Regions from separate parts of the Homo sapiens genome. Here region 1 is linked to region 2. The links come from fine-mapping of genetic effects on gene expression. A gene starts in region 2. The other region holds a variant in brackets. All regions are shown on one strand. Distances are between the middles of the regions.

What was found. PIP is the estimated chance that this variant, and not a neighbour inherited with it, causes the effect.
Region 1: its variant is the best candidate, but not a certain one, in a credible set for the expression of REV1 in whole blood (Lepik 2017, PIP 0.52).

Annotation. Positions count from the first base shown.
Region 1 is chr2:99,325,972-99,331,346 of GRCh38, forward strand. It overlaps TXNDC9 (thioredoxin domain containing 9), which reads right to left. Exons shown (of 5, transcript NM_005783.4): 3 at 1,564-1,682. Among named protein-coding and RNA genes, the nearest start is that of TXNDC9, 7.7 kb to the right of the region's middle. The variant C/T (reference allele first, on the strand shown) is at 2,814.
Region 2 is chr2:99,487,537-99,492,911 of GRCh38, forward strand. It overlaps REV1 (REV1 DNA directed polymerase), which reads right to left and starts at 2,481. Exons shown (of 23, transcript NM_016316.4): 1 at 2,281-2,481. RefSeq lists silencers at 1,956-2,035, 2,106-2,205, 2,316-2,985 and an enhancer at 2,419-3,304.

The sequences.
Region 1 (5,375 bases), 160 kb before region 2:
TTGCACTCTAGCCTGGGTGACAGTGTAAGACTCTGTCTCAAAAACAAAAAAAAACAACAAAAAAAAAACAAGTGGACAAATAATATTTTACATACTAGTATATTTATATATCACCTCATCATATTTGTCAGAGGTTGGCAACTTGAGGAATGTGTGCCAATGCGAGATGGTTGTGTACCATAAGGGCAGAGGTTTCTCTGATACCTTTCTACCTGCCTAATCCCTTCTCTCACTGTTCCTCACAAGGGATTTCACCATCTCAATATTTTGTTTCATTTTTATTCTCTTAGTCAATGAATACCAGGCAATCAATTCTTGAAAGGTGTTAACTAACAATGAAGCTGTTGGGTTGTGAGATCAAGACAAAGGGGCAAGAAGGCCACAGAAATGAGAAAGAGAGCAGGGCTGAAACCACAGTGAGTGCCAGAGACTCTAGAGCACAGTGCTTGTCTGTCCTGGGTAGGCAGGTGCCAGTCAGCAGATGACTGCCATCATAGTTCCAGCTATGCTATTAGCAAGTTTTCTGATTTTTTAAAGAAAAATTCTAAGTGTGGATATTTTCAAAAGGAGTTATCTCTCGATTTTTAAGTGTTGGCAACTAATCAAATCTGTGCACAAAAAACCACAAAGGCTTGGGTCCTTTGGTTTACGATGTGACCTCTTCTGAGGAGGTATTAACATTTTATAAGAGATCTGCTTCCTTAGAGAAATTTGGAGACCTAGGGTGGTCTAAGAAAAATCACTTCTCCTTCTAGCCAAGACTGGCAGTCCCAACTCTGCTCTGGTGAAAGGTTTGGCCAAGCCACCATCTCCCCACCACAGTTGCTAGTTCCTTCAAGGAGGAACTGAAGGAACACTGACTCTCAACAGCTGTTGCCCGTTCCCAATATCATGGCTACATCACAATACTAGAGGGAAATAATTACTGTCATGGTGATAAGAATTTTAAGTGTACATTTCTAAGATGTTTTTAGTTAGCTAGTGAAAATACAATTCAAAAATATAAGCCATTTATATGGGAATATTGACTTTCAGTAATATTCATTTATACTTTTGCATGTAACTGTTCTTTAAGTTACTCTTTAAAATAACAATTAACTTTTTTTTTCTTTCTTTTTTGAGATGGAGTCTCACTCTATCGCTCGAGCTGAAGTGCAGTGTCGCGATCTCCGCTCACTGCAACCTCTGTCTCCTGGGTTCAAGCAATTCTCCCACCTCAGCCTCCCCAGTAGCTGAGACTACAGGTACCTGCCACCACACCCGGCTAATTTTGTAGTTTTAGTAGAGGCAGGGTTTCGCCATGTTGGCCAGGCTGGTCTTGAACTCCTGACCTCAAGTGATCCACCCCCCACTTGGCCTCCCAAAGTGCTGAGATTGCAGGCTTGAGTCACTGGGCCCCTGCCTGCTTAACTTAATACTAAATAACATATGAGAGAGTACAATGAAACAACTTAGGAAGTTTTTTCTTTTAGTTTTCTTCATTTCTCTAGTAAGCCAGTATATCTCCAGCCAAACAATTCACTGTGTTTTTTTAGAAAAAGTCACAGATGGAAACAAAGTTACCTGAATGTGGAGTCTCTGTAGAAATGGCAAACCACATTTTCACTCTCCTTGACTTCTTGAAAAAAGTCTCTTTCACTAGGGATTTCTCTGTATTCCCCATGTCCTTTAGAAAGCCATTCCTAATTTGGAGAGAGGCAAAACATTACACATGTGAGATATCTCTTTCAGAACCACTTGACATTTTAAGTGTCCAAATCACCATCGTATTTTGTAATGAAGTCAATTAAAAAAAAAAGTTTTTTTTTTGTTTGTTTTTGTTTTTTTTTTTTGAGACGGAGTCTTGCTCTGTCACCAGGCTGGAGGGCAGTGGCGCGATCTTGGCTCACTGCAACCTCCGCCTCCTGGGTTCAAGCAATTCTCCTGCTTCAGCCTCCCGAGTAGCTGGGACTACAGGCGGGCACCAGTATGTCCAGCTACTTTTTGTATTTTTAGCAGAGATGGGTTTTCACCATGTTGGCCAGGATGGTCTCGATCTCTTGACCTTGTGATCCGCCTGCCTCGGCTTCCCAAAGTGCTGGGATTATAGGTGTGAGCCACCGCGCCCGGCCCAAAAGTGTTATTTATTTATTTTTTTTTTGAGAATGGGTCTTGCTAAAGTTGCCCAGGATGGAGTGTGGTGGCATGATCATAGCTCACTGCAGCCTCAAACCTCCTGGGCTCAAGAGATCCTCCTACGTCAGTCTCCCAAGGAATTGGGACCACTGGCGCATGCCACACCACGCCTGGCATTTTTTTTTTTTTTTTTTGGTAGAGACGGGGTTTTTACTATATCGCCCAGGCTGGTGTCAAACTCCTCGGTTCAAGCAATCCTCCCACCTTGTCCTCCAAAAGTGCTGGGGTTATAGGCATGAGCCACTGTGCCTGGCTGAAGTCAAAGAAAAATGAATGTTTTTTAGCAATTTACTTTCCTGTTTCTACTGTCAATGCAAAACTAGTCTACGGACAGTGAACGTCTCCACAGCATGGCCTGGGTTCAAGACAATTACCTGTCTTTGTAGCTTAAAACATCTATTTTCTCAGAACTTTCAAAATAAAAATTTAGACTTGAGAGACTCAGAATGTAAATATCCACTTAACTCTATCCATGTACTCTTAAACTACTAAAACCAGAAGCATTTGATCCAAGTTACTACAAGTCTTTTAAAAATAATGCTCATGAGGCTGGGTGCAGTGGCTGATGCCTGTAATCCCAGCACCTTGGGAGGCTGAGGCGGCTGGATCACCTGAGGTCAGGAGTTCCAGACTAGCCT[C/T]GCCAACATGGTGAAACCCCGTCTCTACTTAAAAAAAAAAAAAAAATACAAGAAATTACCTAGCTGTGGTGGTAGGCGCCTGTAATCCCAGCTACTTGGGAGGCTGAGGCAGGAGAATTGCTTGAACCCAGGAGGCAGAGGTTGCAGTGAGCTGAGATCACGCCACTGCCTGGGCAACAGAGTGAGACTCTGTCTCAAAAATAAATAAAAATAAAAATAATGCTTATGAGATAAACCCAATTCGTCTTGGGGAGAAAAGGAGGATACTGCAGCTCTGAAGCTCAAGAGCCCTGTCTGCTTTTGATAACCACTTTATAAATGCTTAAAAAGTCTCTATACCTGCACTAATTGTTAGAAAGGTCATCTCACACTGAACTGCAATATATCCATAATTCTGGTCTGTGGATTCCAGCTTGGATAAAGATTAAAGTTTTAATCTCTTTCCCACGTGGGCCCTTCAAACATCACATATTGCCTAAGTTTTCCCTTCTCCACACTGAACACTTCCAGTTCCTTTTAACTGTTCTCATATGAAAAGATTTCTAGAGTTCCTACTCTTCCAGGATATCAACTAAACACACTCTAATTCACCAATGTCTTCTTAAAATGTGACAGAGGTCTGAATCCAGCCTCCAGAAGGGGTCCAACCAAAGAGCCAGGAGGGCCATCTCCCTTCCTCCTCTGGACGTCAGTGAACGTGGCCCAGACTATATTGATGACTGCGGTGTCAAAATCACATCCATTTACATCGAGCTGACACTTGCAGGATACCCTGATATTTTCTTATGTGAAATTTCTACACACAGTTTAACTCTCAAATACAATTCCCTAATGACATATGACATTTCATGACTGCTTTCACAACTTACCAATGATATGTGCCCTTAAAAAGTATTTGTTAGGCTGGACGCAGTGGCTCACACCTGTAATCTCAGCACTTTGGGAGGCTGAGGCAGGTGGATCACTTGAGGACAGGAGTTTGAGAACAGCCTGGGCAACACGGCGAAACCCTGTCTCTACAAAAAATATGAAAATTAGCCAGGTGTGTTGGCACACACCTGTAATCCCAGCTCCTCGGGGGCTGAGGCACAATAATTGCTTGAACTCCGAAGGCGGAGGTTGCAGTGAGCCAAGATCACACCACTGCACTCCAGCCTGGGTGACAGAGCAAGACCCTGTCTCAAAAAAAAAAGTATTTGTCTTTTAAAAAGCTGCTATTTCTAGGCCGGGCGCAGTGGCTCACGCCTGTAATACTAGCACTTTGGGAGGCTGAGGTGGGCGGATCACCTGAGGTCAGGAGTTCAAGACCAGCCTGGCCAACATGGCGAAACCCCACCTCTACTAAAAATACAAAAATTAGCCGGGCATGGTGGCAGGCGTCTGTAATCCCAGCTACTTGGGAGGCTGAGGCAGAAGAATTGCTTGATCCTGGGAGGTGGAGGTTGCAGTGAGCCGAGATTGTGCCACTGCACTCCAGCCGGGGCAACAGAGCAAGACTCTTATCTCAAAAAAAAAAAAAAAAAAAAAAAAAAAAAGCTGCTATTTCTTTTCATTATTTATTCTCAGGTATTTAACCAAGAGGCTGAAGACCCGAACCTGTCCTGGGCTCCTTTGAGGGAGGATGTGCCCATTCCAAACCTCTACCAATGCTCAGGGCCTCTCCTGACACATTCACTACACCCCTGTGCTCTTAGCATAGCCCCTTTTGGACAGCATGTGCTCCTAAGGTATCTGCAGAACAGAATCAAGCAGGATGGGCCTACCTGAGGCATGGCAGCTGGGCAGCACCTGGCTGTCAGTGGCTGTCACCCAAGCCTCTGCTTAACTCCTATTTCTTACCTTATCCCTCTATTCTGCTCCCTACCTAAGTGTGCCAGCTCTAGTTAACAGTAGGAGGGTGCTTGGCTGACAGAAGAATATAGATTCACCTAGGTCTATTAAGTGCCGACTGTAAGTCAATGCATACAATGATCTCCCCAATACCCTCGTGGATCAGAAAATCAAAATTACTGCATAATCTAATTACTGTATAATCTCTTATAAAAAGAATATCTATACAAATCACTAGGTTTCTTGACTATTTCCAGAAAATATTTTAATAAAAGACCTACTAAAATGCAGTGAAAGTTCTAAAATAAGACCCTCTGAATTACTCGATGACAAATTCATTTTAAATTGATTTATACATTAATAATAAAAAAGGCTTATAGCCAGTCTGCCTTAGTTGGTTTTAATTATATTCAGACCACTGTTTTGAACTGCCAAAAAGTTCCTTTAAGACATTATTTAACGTATGTTCATCACTGCAAATCAGGTGAATTCAGTCTCTCTACAAAAATATCCTAGTTACAAATAATTATTTTTAGTTGCACATTAGCAATTAGTACTTAAATGTGACTATGAAATATGAGTTTGTGGCAGAACCTAAACATATATTACCTTAAATTCCAATAATCCGTCCTTTGCATACTAATTATCAGCCCTATACTATGAAAAGAAGCCAATTGGGCCTGGTGTGGGGTGGCTCACACCTGTAATCCCAGCACTTTGGGAGGCTGAGGC
Region 2 (5,375 bases):
TTTAATATCCCTTTTCCCGTCTCGTCTCCTGACTTGCCTTTGGAAAAAAATAAGATTATTTTTTAATGTCCATGTTAACGCTTCAGTTGGTGCTATTATAGTAAAAAAAAACTTTTCATTTTTAAATGTTCTGTTTAATATACTCTATGATTAGTAATACGCCACATATACACACCCATACATTCTTGAAAAGCAGAAAGACCCACAATGCTCTTTAGTGTAGGACTTGTTCATTTATTTGGAGACGAGAGGTACCTGTCACCTCTTCTGATTACCTTTCCTCTCACGCTTTGTCTCTAGCACATCCTGGCTCATTCTAGATTGTGAACTGCAATAAACAGGTATACCAAAGGGAATATGTATTTACTGAGCACCTCCTGAGTACCATGGTGTCACTAGATGTCTCACGTTTAAGAACTGATTTAATCCTCAGCTACCCAAGGTGGGAAATGGTATCTTCATTCTACAAACGAGAAAAAATCAGAGATACTAGTAACTTAACTTGTCCAGTCACCAGCTAACAATTTGTAGGGCCAGAAATCTAACCTCCATGTAACTGTGAACTTCCTGTCTTTCCACTACAGCAGCTATCAAAGAAAGTGCTTTCAAATATATATTATATGTAGTCACTGCAACTTCTTATGAATAATGACCAGTTTGTTGCTGGTGAGGACAACGTTTCCTTAATGCTCTTATGTAGAATCAGAGTTTTGAAGTTGCGAGTGGGAAGTTGGAAATGTAGTGATCTTATATATTCAAGCACATTATTTTTTAAAAATTATGTTCTACTTGAGACCTCATAGAAATTAATTTTAAAAGAGCAATTCCCATCTTTACAAAAAAAATTAAATATGTACGGTTTACCGTAAAATAGCGGTTAAGGTTCTACAACAAAAGATAGGAGTTTGGTACAGACTCTACCCTCAAAAGGTCCTACACAGTAAGAGAAGACAGGGCTAAAAAGATAAACGCAACACAGGAAAAGGCGCAAATAGCCTAAGAATTGAATGGAAGAGAGCCTTGTATACTGGAGAATGATTCCTGGAAGAGGAACTTTAGGTGAGCTCTTAAGTGTCCAGTACAGGAAGGCAGGGAACAATACGCAGCACTGGTCCCTGCACGGGCAAACCCAAGAATATGTGTGAAAGGTTGGTGGACAGATAGATGGTTCCCACAGGCTGATTTGCTACATACAGAACTCCATAGAAAGAACCAAGGTTATGGTTGGTCCTACCCTACCTAAACAGGAAATGGCTTATTCTCGGAGACTAAAGTGCCAAGTCCGGAAAGACCAGACAGATACACAGAATTACAGACTGTTACATAAAGTCCTTAATAGTTACAAGCCCTTGTTGTGCTATGTGCTAGTCTGCATTATTTTCACCTAAATGAAACCATTTCTACTTAGTACATGGCGTGAGAAGACGTGGAGATAAAGAGAATTAGCAGACGTATATTATCTGCAATTTATCTTACGGAGGAGTACATTAAGGAGTGTTATGTGAGATTATTTCTTTACAAACTGAGAATAGGTAGGAAGAGCAGCGAAACACAGCGCGGCTCGGTGCGCCCAGAGCGGCGTCACTGTAACAGTACAGAAGTGGGCAAGGGGCTCTCGGAAGGACAGTTGGGGAACGGCGCCCAGCGTATTTAGCGAACGGACAAGCAGCAAGGAAAAACAAGGGAGCAACAACCGCCTTCGGACATTCCGACCGGTTCTGGGATGCACCGGGGACGTCGAAGGCGGGGTGCGGAAAAACGCTGTGGCTGGAGTGCGGGTGGGAGCGGCGGCTCGACCGGGTCGACATTCTACAAACGCTTGTGGAACGAACGCCCGAACGCGCGCGTGAATGAATGGCGCGGAACTGAATGGCCGGCCGAGGCGCCGGCGCAGGAGGAAGGAGTTTGCGGCGCGGTCTGACCGGGCCGGCGGGATGCGGCCGGGCGCGGAGGGAAGGGCCGCTGCGCCAGGGGTCGGCGCGGGGCGGCCCATGGGGCTGGCGGCGGCGCGGGGCCGGCCGCGCCATGACGGAAGGGAAGGGGAGGGGAGGTCACACATTACATAACCCGGCGGCTGCGAGCGTCAGGGGAAGGCGCCGTGGACAGCCCAGGCCGCGACAGGACGGCCGCGGGCCGGGGCCGGGGCGACGCACCCCTCCCCCGCGCCACCTCAGGCCGACCGCGCTCTGGCCGCTGCCGGGCGGGTCTGCGGCGCCTCCGGGCGACGCGTGTCCGATCCCGCCCCTCCCCCACCCCGCCGCCGGCCCGGGGGTCGCTCACCTTCCGCGTTGCCCCAGACCACCATGCCCGGGCCCGGCGGCCTTCTCCGGCCTTGCGGACCCCGGCCCCGCCGCCGCCAGTGCCCTCGCCAGGGACCAGGGAGGAGGGCCGGGGGAAGGCAGCCCCACCGCTGAGCAGCGCCGCGGTCCACGCTCCCCCACGCTCGCGGCAACCAACCCCGCGCGCGCTCCGCGGTGGCTCTCCGCCCCTCCCCCTCCGGTTAGCGCGCGCGCCGCAGCCACGCCCCCTAGCGTTCCGCGCGCGCTCCCCGGCCCCGCTCGCGCTCACAGCCGCGCGGCGCACGCGCTCTGCTCCCCCCGGCCCGGGGCGACCCCAGCCTCGGGCGTAGCACCGCGGCGCCCGGCGTCGGCCTCCGTGTTCCTCCCCTCCCCGGCCCCGCCCTGTTGTTCTGCAGCCGCCCGCAAGGGGCAGCGCCTGGGCGGCACGTGACCGTCTCGCTAGCTGGGCGGAGGGGAGCGCAGCGCGGGCCCGCCCACGCACTGCGCCGCCTGCCCGCCCGTCCTGCTCCGGTCACCCCCGCGCTTCGTTGACCGGGTCGCGGCTCTTCGGTTGCCATTCGGACAGCGCGCCGCTCCGTGCACAGCGAGTCCCCGCGCCTGCCCCGCCTTGGGGCTCCCCAGTGGGGAAGGACACAAGTGCAGACACTGACCGGGCTTCAAACCCCGGTACTGTGTGAAGATGCGCCAGACGCCCGGGTTCCCTCCTTAAGCAATTGATTTACAGTGACATCTAGTGGAGAAAGGGACACACATGAACTGACATTTTCCTATGTCCAGAGCAACCGAGAACCACGGCCCACTCAGGTTCGCGGGAAGGAGCACTGCGCCACGGCGTTTTCGGGATTCGTGGCCTGCTCCCGCAGGGCACAGACACTATCTTCTGTCCTTTGAGTGCCCGGGCAGCATTGCGCCTGAGTATTTGTAAACGGAGGGCCGGTATCCCATCCCATGTACAGCGCTGGAGTTACCCGAGAAAGCAGTTTTCTATGAATATAAAAATAATATCCTATATTATGTATGCGTAAGTACAATTCTAATTGAGGGCCTTCTAGCAGAAAACAATCCGTCCATAAGGACCACTTTCTCCCTCTTGGCAGGGTCGCTTTGAAGACTCCACATTGTTACATAATAGTCTTTATTGTTGTAATGCACAAACATGAAGATACTTTTTTCCCACTCATTCCCTTGCCTAAAATGCTTCAGAGTTTGCAGGTACTTAGGAAACAATCAGTATTCTTTTGAAAACTGATTTGCAGAGTTGGAACTTGTTTACTAGCAACACAGAGAATACTCAAATAGCTCATTTCTTTCCCTTTCAGTTTTTTGCCATTTTATAGACTTCTATAAATGCACTTCAACTTCAGTATTCTCGTCGCTAATCCAACGAATTTAGATTGCATACTTTTCAAAGACGTCATAATTTAAAACAAATTGCGTAATTGCTTTCTTTTCTTTTCTTTTCTTTTGAGACGAAGTTTTGCTCTTTTGCCCAGGCTGGAGTGCAATGGCGCGATCTCGGCTCACTGCAACCTCCGCCTCCCAGGTTCAAGTGATTCTCCCACCTCAGCCTCCCGAGTAGCTGGGATTACAGGCATGCGCCACCATGCCCGGCTAATTTTTGTATTTTTAGTAGAGAGGGGGTTTCACCATGTTGGCCAGGCTGGTCTGGAAGTCCTGACCTCAGGTAATCCACCAGCCTTGGCATCCTAAAGTGCTAGGATTATAGGCGTGAGCCACCGTGCCTGCCCATAATTTTAACAGACTCACGACCAGTTGCCGACTGCAACACCAGGAGGTCATCTGCTGAGATGCTACAGAAAAACAGTGGTAACCCCTTGTTATGGGTGAGTTTTGTTTTGGTTGTTGTTCTTTTGCTTGTTTTAAATGTCTAAATGGCAGCATTCCTGCACGATTGTATTTCAATTTTCTTTTCCACTCTCGTATTCAAACCGAAGATCTTTTTTTTTCTTCTTTTTGTATTTTTCTCAAGGAAGAAACACAAACCTTGAGCCAACTGACCTTGGCAATACCTTTATAGAATACAGTAAAATGGTATTAACTGCAAACTAGTAGGCAGCCTCTGTAAAGGACGAAAAAAAATCACGTTGCTGTCTACATAAAATAGGATAAAAAGAGAGATGGGGAATACATAAATAAAAATGTATTTATGGACAAATTCTAGCATCCTTGTGACAGGGTCTTGCTCTGTTGTCCAGGCTGGAGTGCAGTGGCAAGATCATAGCTCAGTGTAACCTCAAACTCCTGGTCCCAAGCGAACCTCCCACCTAGGTGTTCCAAAGCACTAAGATTACAGGCATGAGCCACCTCACCCAGTCCAAAGTTTTATTTTTGTCCATTCCAGAATATTATGTTTTATGCCATCACATAATGAAGTCCTCTTGTTTCAATTTCATGCACCTACATTTATTCACCCACTTATCTATTTATATTTATTCTCATAGGATTATCTTTCTCATGTAAGGGGAGTCAGGCTGACCTTTGGGCCACTCTGGGGGTCTAGAGATGGCCGCGCTGGACCCCTACACTTGGGGGAGTGCTTTGGGGCACTGTACCTTATTTCCGTTTTCTGAACCTCATTAAAATTCATTTCATTACTGCTATCTCAAAAGGCCTATGAAAGTGCCAACCACTGACCTTTGGAGGGACAGCCATGGATAAGGACATGACTTCTGTCCTTTCACCTCTGTATCTGGCAGTAAACTTTCCTTGGAAACATTTACATCTAGTCTCTCAAATACCAAAAACAAACAGCATGAAACTACTAAAAACAGAGGTTTGTACTCAAGTCCCTTGGCTGATGTAGACACAATAACATGTGATTTACTCCATAGGAAAGAGTGTGCTGATTGTAATAAGGATTCAGTGCATTATGCTGAAAGATGAAATAATAAGGCAGAATGATCTCACACCCACAGAAACTTAGGAAATTGGCAGTGGAATTGGTTCACCAAGACTGAACTCTTTCAAACATACCATCATGTTTGACAATATGACTGAACTCTTTCAAACATACATGGACAGGTGTATATATCTGTATTTAAGCAACACTGTTCA